Homo sapiens: one gene and its partner. The protein of the gene in region 1 interacts with the protein of each later gene in a pairwise test. Each region holds a gene or a part of one and is shown in the gene's direction. Other genes may lie near its edges. The genes, in order: LSMEM2 and CLEC12B.

Region 1 (4,514 bases):
GCGCCTGTAATCCTAGCTACTCAGGAGGCTGAGGCAGGAGAATTGCTTGAACCTGGGAGGTGGAGGTTGCAATGAGCCTAGATCTCGCCGCTGCACTCCAGCCTGGGCGACAGAGCGAGACTCCAAAAAAAAAAAAAAAAAAAAAAAAAAAGGTGGTTCCGCGTGACTGAACAGGTTCTGTAGGGCCTTTGGGAATAGTGACACGCAGGGTACATTGTGCATAATATAACTTCAGGACTAAGTGCTAGGAAGAAAATAAAACTGGACCGGGCGCAGTGGCTCACGCCTGTAATCCCAGCATTTTGGGAGGCCGAAGCAGTCGGATCATGAAGTCAGGAGTTCAAGACCAGCCTGACCAACATGGTGAAACCCTGTCTCTACTAAAAATACAAAACTTAGGTGGGTGTGATGGCACGCGCCTTTAATCCCAGCTACTCAGGAGGCTGAGGTAAGATAATTGCTTGAACCAGGGAGGCAGAGGTTGCAGTGAGCCGAGATCGCCCCACTGCACTCCAGCCTGGGCAACAGAGCGAGACTCTGTCTCAAAGAAAAGAAAACTGGGTGATGTGGAAAAGAATGTACACAGAAGGCCTCACTGAAGGGGTGGCATTTGAGTTCGCTGACAAGACGGGGCTGGCCACAGGGCTATCTGGGAGCAGAGCATTCCAGGAGGGAACAGCCACCACCAAGCCCCTGAGGTGGTAACAAGCTTGTTGACTTTGAGGAACATCAGGGAGGCCAGTGTGAGACAACGGAGTGACAGGTTTGAGGTGTGTAGGAAGTAGAGCCCACAGTCTTGCTTTGCCCCCACTGGGAAGGAAGGGCACAGGGATCCAACCACAGAGGGAAAGCTGGAAGCTGGACCACCTCCTCCTTTCAAGGTAAGCAGTGATGCGCATCCTTACACAACCTTATGGGACCTGTCTGCCCTTGTGGAGATGGGAGCAGGGGAAGACCAAAACCGTGGATTGTGCTAAATGCTCCAGATGTTGTTCTCAGTGTACACTGCCAGGGAGGAGCCACTGTTATTCCGACTTTACACATGAGCAAACTGAGTTCAGAGAGGGGAGACCCTTTACCTAAGGTTGCAAGCTTAGTAACAAATGAACCAGCCTCCAACCTAGGTCCACCCACTGGCCAGCATGGGTGCTGTTGGTGTATCTGCCCACTTGTGAAGCTATCAGAGCCCTCATGGCATTGGGATTCAGTTGTCCATCACCCTCTATAAGACACACACAACAATAGCATTGTGTGCTAGCAGGTCATGCAGTGGAGGCTGCTGTGTTTGCTGGGAGGAGAGATGACTGGGCTGTGGGTAGGAGTCTGCAGGGGTAGAGGGGTGGCCAAATAGAGATGCACAGGCTTCCTTTGTCTGTCTTGGCTGCCACATGGGGCCTTGCTGAGCCTGGAGTGGCCATTCTGGATGTATGGGGGAGGTGTGCTTCCCCTTGAAGGTCCCTGGGCACCTGGACTAGTGGAGGCAGGCTCCTGGCTGGCTCCCTCACCAGGTAGATAGTTCAGGCTGGCCCACGTGGATCACTCTGCCCCTTCCCATGGCTGAGGGCTGCCCCCTCTAAATATAGCCCAGTGGGCTGAGCTCAGGCCTATTTTAGGCCAAGGCTGGGAGGCAGCCAGGCCTTCCCTGGGCTCACAAAGGAGCCACTGCTGCATTTGTCCAGTCCTGCTACTGGATGCCATCATTGGCCCCCGACTGCCCACTGCTTGCCATGCCTGAGGAGACCCAAGAAGGTAGGAGAGGGTGACCATGAGGGAGGGCAAGGCCTCAGTCCTGTGACCTTGTGGACCATGGAGAGACCCACCCTCTGTCCCACTGACCTCACTGTCTTGAGTAGTTAGTTACCCATTTTCATGCTCCAGCTCCAGTAAAAGGACCTGCCCCCTGTGCAGGGAGGAAAAGCCTGCCATGCCTGGAGCCCCTTGTCACCTCAGGCCCTGCTTCAGTTTCCCCTGCTGGGGACATCAAGGAGGGATGGGAGAAGCTACCCAGTTAGGAGTGGGTCAACTACAGGCTGTGCTCAGGTGGGTGTGGGCATCCGGTCAGCTGCCTGGCCGGTTCAGCTCTTAAGGAAGGAAGCTGGGATTGGGGTGGGTAGTGGTTCCAGAAAGCATTTGGGTACCTGTCCCATGGACTGAAAAGTAGTTAGGCCTCTGGCCTCCCCTGACTTGGGTCTAAATATCCCCAACTGCCTAGGGTTGGGGGTCCCTTGGCCTGGTCAGACAGAGACTCAGCTAGTCAAGAGCTTGGTGGCCACTCACCTAACTGCACCACTGCATATAAGAAGTACTGATGCTCAGAGGGGCCAGGGCAGCAGGAATCTAGGAAGCTACAGGTCCAGTACTGGCCAGGACGTAGGACTGTCTGCTCCATGGCTCCATGTTATGGCCCATGACAGAGCATGGCCCAGCTAGCAAGCTCCTCTTATCACATTTTCAACTTTTTTTTTTTTTTTGAGATGGAATCTCGCTCTGTCACCCAGGCCGGAGTACAGTGGCGTGATCTCGGCTCACTGCAACCTCCGCCTCCCAGATTCAAGCAATTCTCTGCCTCAGCCTCCCAAGTAGCTGGGATTACAGGCGCCTGCCACCATGCCTAGCTAATTTTTGTATTTTTAGTAGAGACGGGGGTTCACCATCTTGGCCAGGCTGGTCTTGAACTCCTGACCTCGTAAGCCACCCACCTCAGCCTCCCAAAGTGTTGGGATTACAGGGGTGAGCCACCGCGCCTGGCCTCAACTTTTTTTTTTTTTGTCACCCAGGCTGGAGTGCAGTGGTGCGGTCTCGGCTCACTGCAACCTCTGCCTCCCAGATTCAAGCTATTCTCCTGTCTCAGGCTCCCAAGTAGCTGGGATTACAGGCATGTGCTACCATGCCCGGCTAATTTTTGTATTTTTAGTAGAGACAAGGTTTCACCGTGTTGGCCAGGCTGGTCTCAAACTCCTGACCTCAGGTGATCCACCCACCTTGGCCTCCCAAATTGTTGGGATTACAGGCGTGAGCCACTGCCAACATTTTCAACATTGCAGGAGAGGGGCCTTGCCCCTGGTAGGGGGAAATGTTTACTTTCATGCATGTGTGTGTGTAGAGAAGGGTCTCCCTGGTCTTGAACTCCTGGCCTCAACCAATCCAATCCTCCCACCTTGGCCTTTCTTTTCTTTTTTTTTTTTTTTTGAGATGGAGTCTCGCTCTGTCGCCCAGGCTGGAGTGCAGTGGCGCGATCTCAGCTCACTGCAAGCTCCGCCTTCCGGGTTCACGCCATTCTCCTGCCTCAGCCTCCTGAGTAGCTGGGACTACAGGAGCCCGCCACTACGCCTGGCTAATTTTTTGTATTTTTAGTAGAGATGGGGTTTCACTGTGTTAGCCGGCATGGTCTCGATCTTCTGACCTCGTGATCCACCCACTTCGGCCTCCCAAAGTGCTGGGATTACAGGTGTGAGCTACCGCGCCCGGCCAGCCACCTTGGCCTTTCAAAGTGCTGGGATTAGAGGCATAAGCCACTGTGCCTACCCTCTTTTGGGATCTTAACAATAACATTTACTGTGTGTTTTTCCTGTAATAAACAATTCACATTCAATTTAGAAAGTGTGAGAAAAGCACAACAAAGTACAAAGAGGGAAATTTTTTTTTTTTTTTGAGACAGAGTCTTGCTCTGTCGCCCAGGCTGGAGTGCAGTGGCACGATCTTGGCTCATTGCAAGCTCTGCCTCCCGGGTTCATGCCATTCTCCTGCCTCAGCCTCCCGAGTAGCTGGGACTACAGGCGCCAGCCACCATGCCCAGCTAATTTTTGTTTTGAATTTTTTAGTAGAGACGGGGTTTCACTGTGTTAGCCAGGATGGTCTCGATCTCCTGACCTCGTGACCTGCCCACCTCGGCCTTCCAAAGTGCTGGGATTACAGGCATGGGCCACTGCGCCCGGCCCTTTTTTTTTTTTTTTTTTCTGAGACGGAGTCTTGCTCTGTCGCCCCGGGTGGAGTGCAGTGGCACGATCTCTGCTCACTGCAACCTCTGCCTCCCAGGTTCAAGTGATTCTCCTGTCTCAGCCTCCCAAGTAGCTGGGACTACAGGCGCCTGCCACCATACCTGGCTAATTTTTAAATATTTTTGGTAGAGACGGGGTTTCACCATATTGGCCAGGCTGGTCTCAAACTCCTGACCTTGTGATCCACTTGCCTTGGCCTCCCAAAGTGCTGGGATTATAGGTGTGAGCCACTGCGCCCGGCAGCAGGGAATTTTTTTTTTTTTTTTTTTTTTTTTGGAGATAGGGTCTCACTCTGTTGCCCAGGCTGGAGTACAATGGCATGATCACAGCTCACTGCAGCCTTGACTTCCTGGACTCAAGCAACCCTCCCACCTCAGCCTCCTGAGAAGCTGGGACCACAGAAGCATGCCACCACACCAAACTAATCTTTAATTACTTTTTTGTTTTTTGAGACGAGGTCTAGCTCTGTCGCCCAGGCTGGAGTGCAGTGGCTTGAGCTTGGATCACTGCAAGCTC
Region 2 (3,154 bases), on another chromosome or scaffold:
TGATTAGTTCAACAATTAGTGTCATGTTGAGGACTTGCCAATTACAATATACGGCAAGTGTCTTTTATGAATTAAAATGAACTAAACCTTCCACTTCAGGGTTTGGATGAAACTATTTAAAGGACAAATAGAATATATAACACTTGGAAAATTTCAATTTTTTTAACTATTTAAAGTTATGAAAAAATAGACGTCAACAAAAATGTGTAAGGGGATATTAGGTTTGCTAAATTCTTTCACAGACTATAAAACAAAAAATTTTGAGGAACACCTCTCATCATAACTACATTTAAATGAAACAACTGTATTAATATTTTAAATATAATAGTATTTTTCTATTAGATAAAATTTAAGATCTTTGGCATCTTAATGGATTTTTAAACTTTTTATTGATACATAAGAGATGTATATGTTTTGGGGTATATGTGATAATTTGATACATTCAGATAGTGTGTAAAGATCAAATAAGTGGAATTGGGATATCGATCACTTTAAATATTTATCTTTTCTTTATGCTAGGAGCATTCAAATTATTATTTTCTCATTATTGTGAAATGTACAGTAGATTATTGTTAATTGTATTCACCCTAATAATCTATGAAACACTAGGTCTTACTTCTTCTATCTAACAGAATATTTGTATTCATAATGGCTTTTTATCTACCTTCCTCCCCCAACAAATCATTATCCACCCCCCTCCCTCCTGTTTCACTCTTTAAAGCATGTTGTCAACGTTTTCTTAAACTGAATAATAATCACTCATCTTCTGTCAAAGATGCCATGCTTCAGCTGTGACTCAGCAGTTCCTTAAATCACAAACAATGGTAGGTCTATTATTTTCTCCCTGGATACACTTTATCTTCATCCATTTCCCAATGTTTTGTCATGGCTATTTCTACTCAAACACTAATCCCCCATTCTCTAATCACCATTATTAATCATATCAAGTCAATTAGTTTGGTTTCACACTAATAATAATGACAAAAAGCACATGCAGAGTAATACACAAACAAAAAAAGTGACAGTTACTTTTTTGTGACAAGAGCAATATTGGGTATGAACTGATTAATATTAATCTGAGGTGTTGCTACTAGACTGAGGGTTTCCAGGAGTAGTACTATGACATCATGTAAACACATTCAGTTTTCATGTTGGAATCTAAGATGTGTCCCTTCTCCCAAAGGGATTTTAATCATTCTTGGCCTCTCTACTCACTCTTAATCAAAGTGTGGAGGAGGTGGCCCCCACAGCAGGGTTTGGAACCTACAGACCCTGGCCCCTGAGACATGCAGCTGTCAGACAAGCCAGCATGTCAAACACAGGTTAGAGAGACTGAGCTTCCAGATTGCATAGCCATTTCCTTGACTACTGAGTAAAGGCCAAGGCTAAGATTTAGTAAGCCTAGCCCTGAAGCAAGCAAAGAATATGGCAGTGTAATGCAGGTCATTTAGAAAAAAACAATGTTGGGCACAAAGAAAATTTAGATCTGACAAGTATAATTTTCTAAAGACATTATTTCAGGATTAACATCAATTTCTTAGCAGAGGAAATGAATACTATTGTCAGAACCATATCTATATAGTCAATCATTTCCTCTTTTAACGTCTGTCTTGTTCTCTTTTTACCCACCACATATGTATAACTATGTGAAAAATTATATTTGTGCATAATAAAATGTGATAACTTTTTACAACAGAATGTGATTTTATTTTTATGTTTTTCTTCATAAGGTCCCAAAGAACTTCAAGTACTTCTAATATAAGCTGAACTGATTAGATTTCATTAATGGAATTACATATTTATGAAGGAAATACAAATTCTCAGTCCAGGATTTAAGTATTTCTCTTAAAGAATTCTACCTGGGATTATGATTAACTTAAAATAAAGAACCCAGATGTGCCAGCTCTGGGCAGATTTTGTGCCAGCTTTAGGCAGCTTCAGATTTTGAAGCTTTGTGGAGGCAGAAGTCTCTCCATATTCAGATACATGACATTGGCTGTAAGAGCAACTGAGGGCACTAAATAGTGATCACGTTTCAAATACAGAATTTATAATTAATTTTAAATTAATTTTCAGATTTAGTACTAAAGAACTTGACCAGATCAATGGATCCAAAGGATGTGCTTATTTTCAAAAAGGAAATATTTATATTTCTCGCTGTAGTGCTGAAATTTTTTGGATTTGCGAGAAGACAGCTGCCCCAGTGAAGACTGAGGATTTGGATTAGTATGCTTCTTCCAAATTCTCCAAGAAGTAAGAGACTTGTGAGTAAGCTCATATGAGGAAAGAGGAAACTACGGTACCAGAGCCAAACCAGCTTTTAAAATGACTGTGTATTTACATTATCAGACAAATGAACTTGTTTAACAGAACATTCTCCAGTTCCTTGTCTGACGTCTTCTGATTTGATGTTATTATTCGGTCTTAAAATTATACCTGGGGACAAAGGGGAATAGCCATACTATGGCCCTATGATTGTCTCAGAATCATTTCACTGAATTTCTTTGCTTTCTCAAATAAAGACTCCTTTCTTTCATTATTATTATACTGTCACGTGTGCACTAGGGTGATATTTAAATATTTAAAAACTAGGGTGATATTTAAATATTTAAAAACACAGGCCACAGCACTAGAACAAGGTCCAAGAGATGCCTGTTGTGATAGTTGCTGGGTCATGTGGAGGTCTGGGGGATCCCAGGCTAAGGGTCCTGGTAGCTGGGGCTGCAGCACTGTATCAACTGATTTGGAAATATTTTATTTTAGCAAATGTTTGTACCACTGTGAACCAGCTAAGTGTCGCCCTGCACTTGCAAAATAGCTTTTCTTCTCCAACAACCCTATGAAAATAAGCGTTCTTATTAATCTTTAAAATTTAGATAATTTATAATCTAGGCATAATAATTTAATATTTACTTTTTTTTGAGACACTGTCTCACTCTGTTGCCTAGGCTGTAGTATTGTGATGTGATTGGCTCACTGCAGCCTCAATCTCCTGGGCTCAATCGATCCCTCCCACCTCAGCCTCCCGAATACCTGGGACCACAGGCATGCAACACCATGCTCAGCTAATTTTTGTATTTTTTTGTAGAGACGAGGTTTCACCATGTTGCCCAGGCTGGTCTCAAACACCTAGGCTCAAGCTATCTGCCAGCCT

Evidence for each region.
Region 2: the proteins of LSMEM2 (region 1) and CLEC12B interact in binary tests that used the Homo sapiens proteins (3 or more experiments, as listed by UniProt).

The regions. Positions count from the first base shown.
Region 1 is NC_000003.12:50,277,423-50,281,936, forward strand, and holds the start of LSMEM2 (leucine-rich single-pass membrane protein 2), read left to right. Parts: upstream 1-1,664; 5' UTR 1,665-1,691; coding exon 1,692-1,749; intron 1,750-4,514.
Region 2 is NC_000012.12:10,016,255-10,019,408, forward strand, and holds the end of CLEC12B (C-type lectin domain family 12 member B), read left to right. Parts: exon of another isoform or gene 1-1,695; intron 1,696-2,076; coding exon 2,077-2,227; 3' UTR 2,228-2,542; downstream 2,543-3,154. UniProt on the Homo sapiens protein: Inhibitory receptor postulated to negatively regulate immune and non-immune functions. Upon phosphorylation, recruits SH2 domain-containing PTPN6 and PTPN11 phosphatases to its ITIM motif and antagonizes activation signals.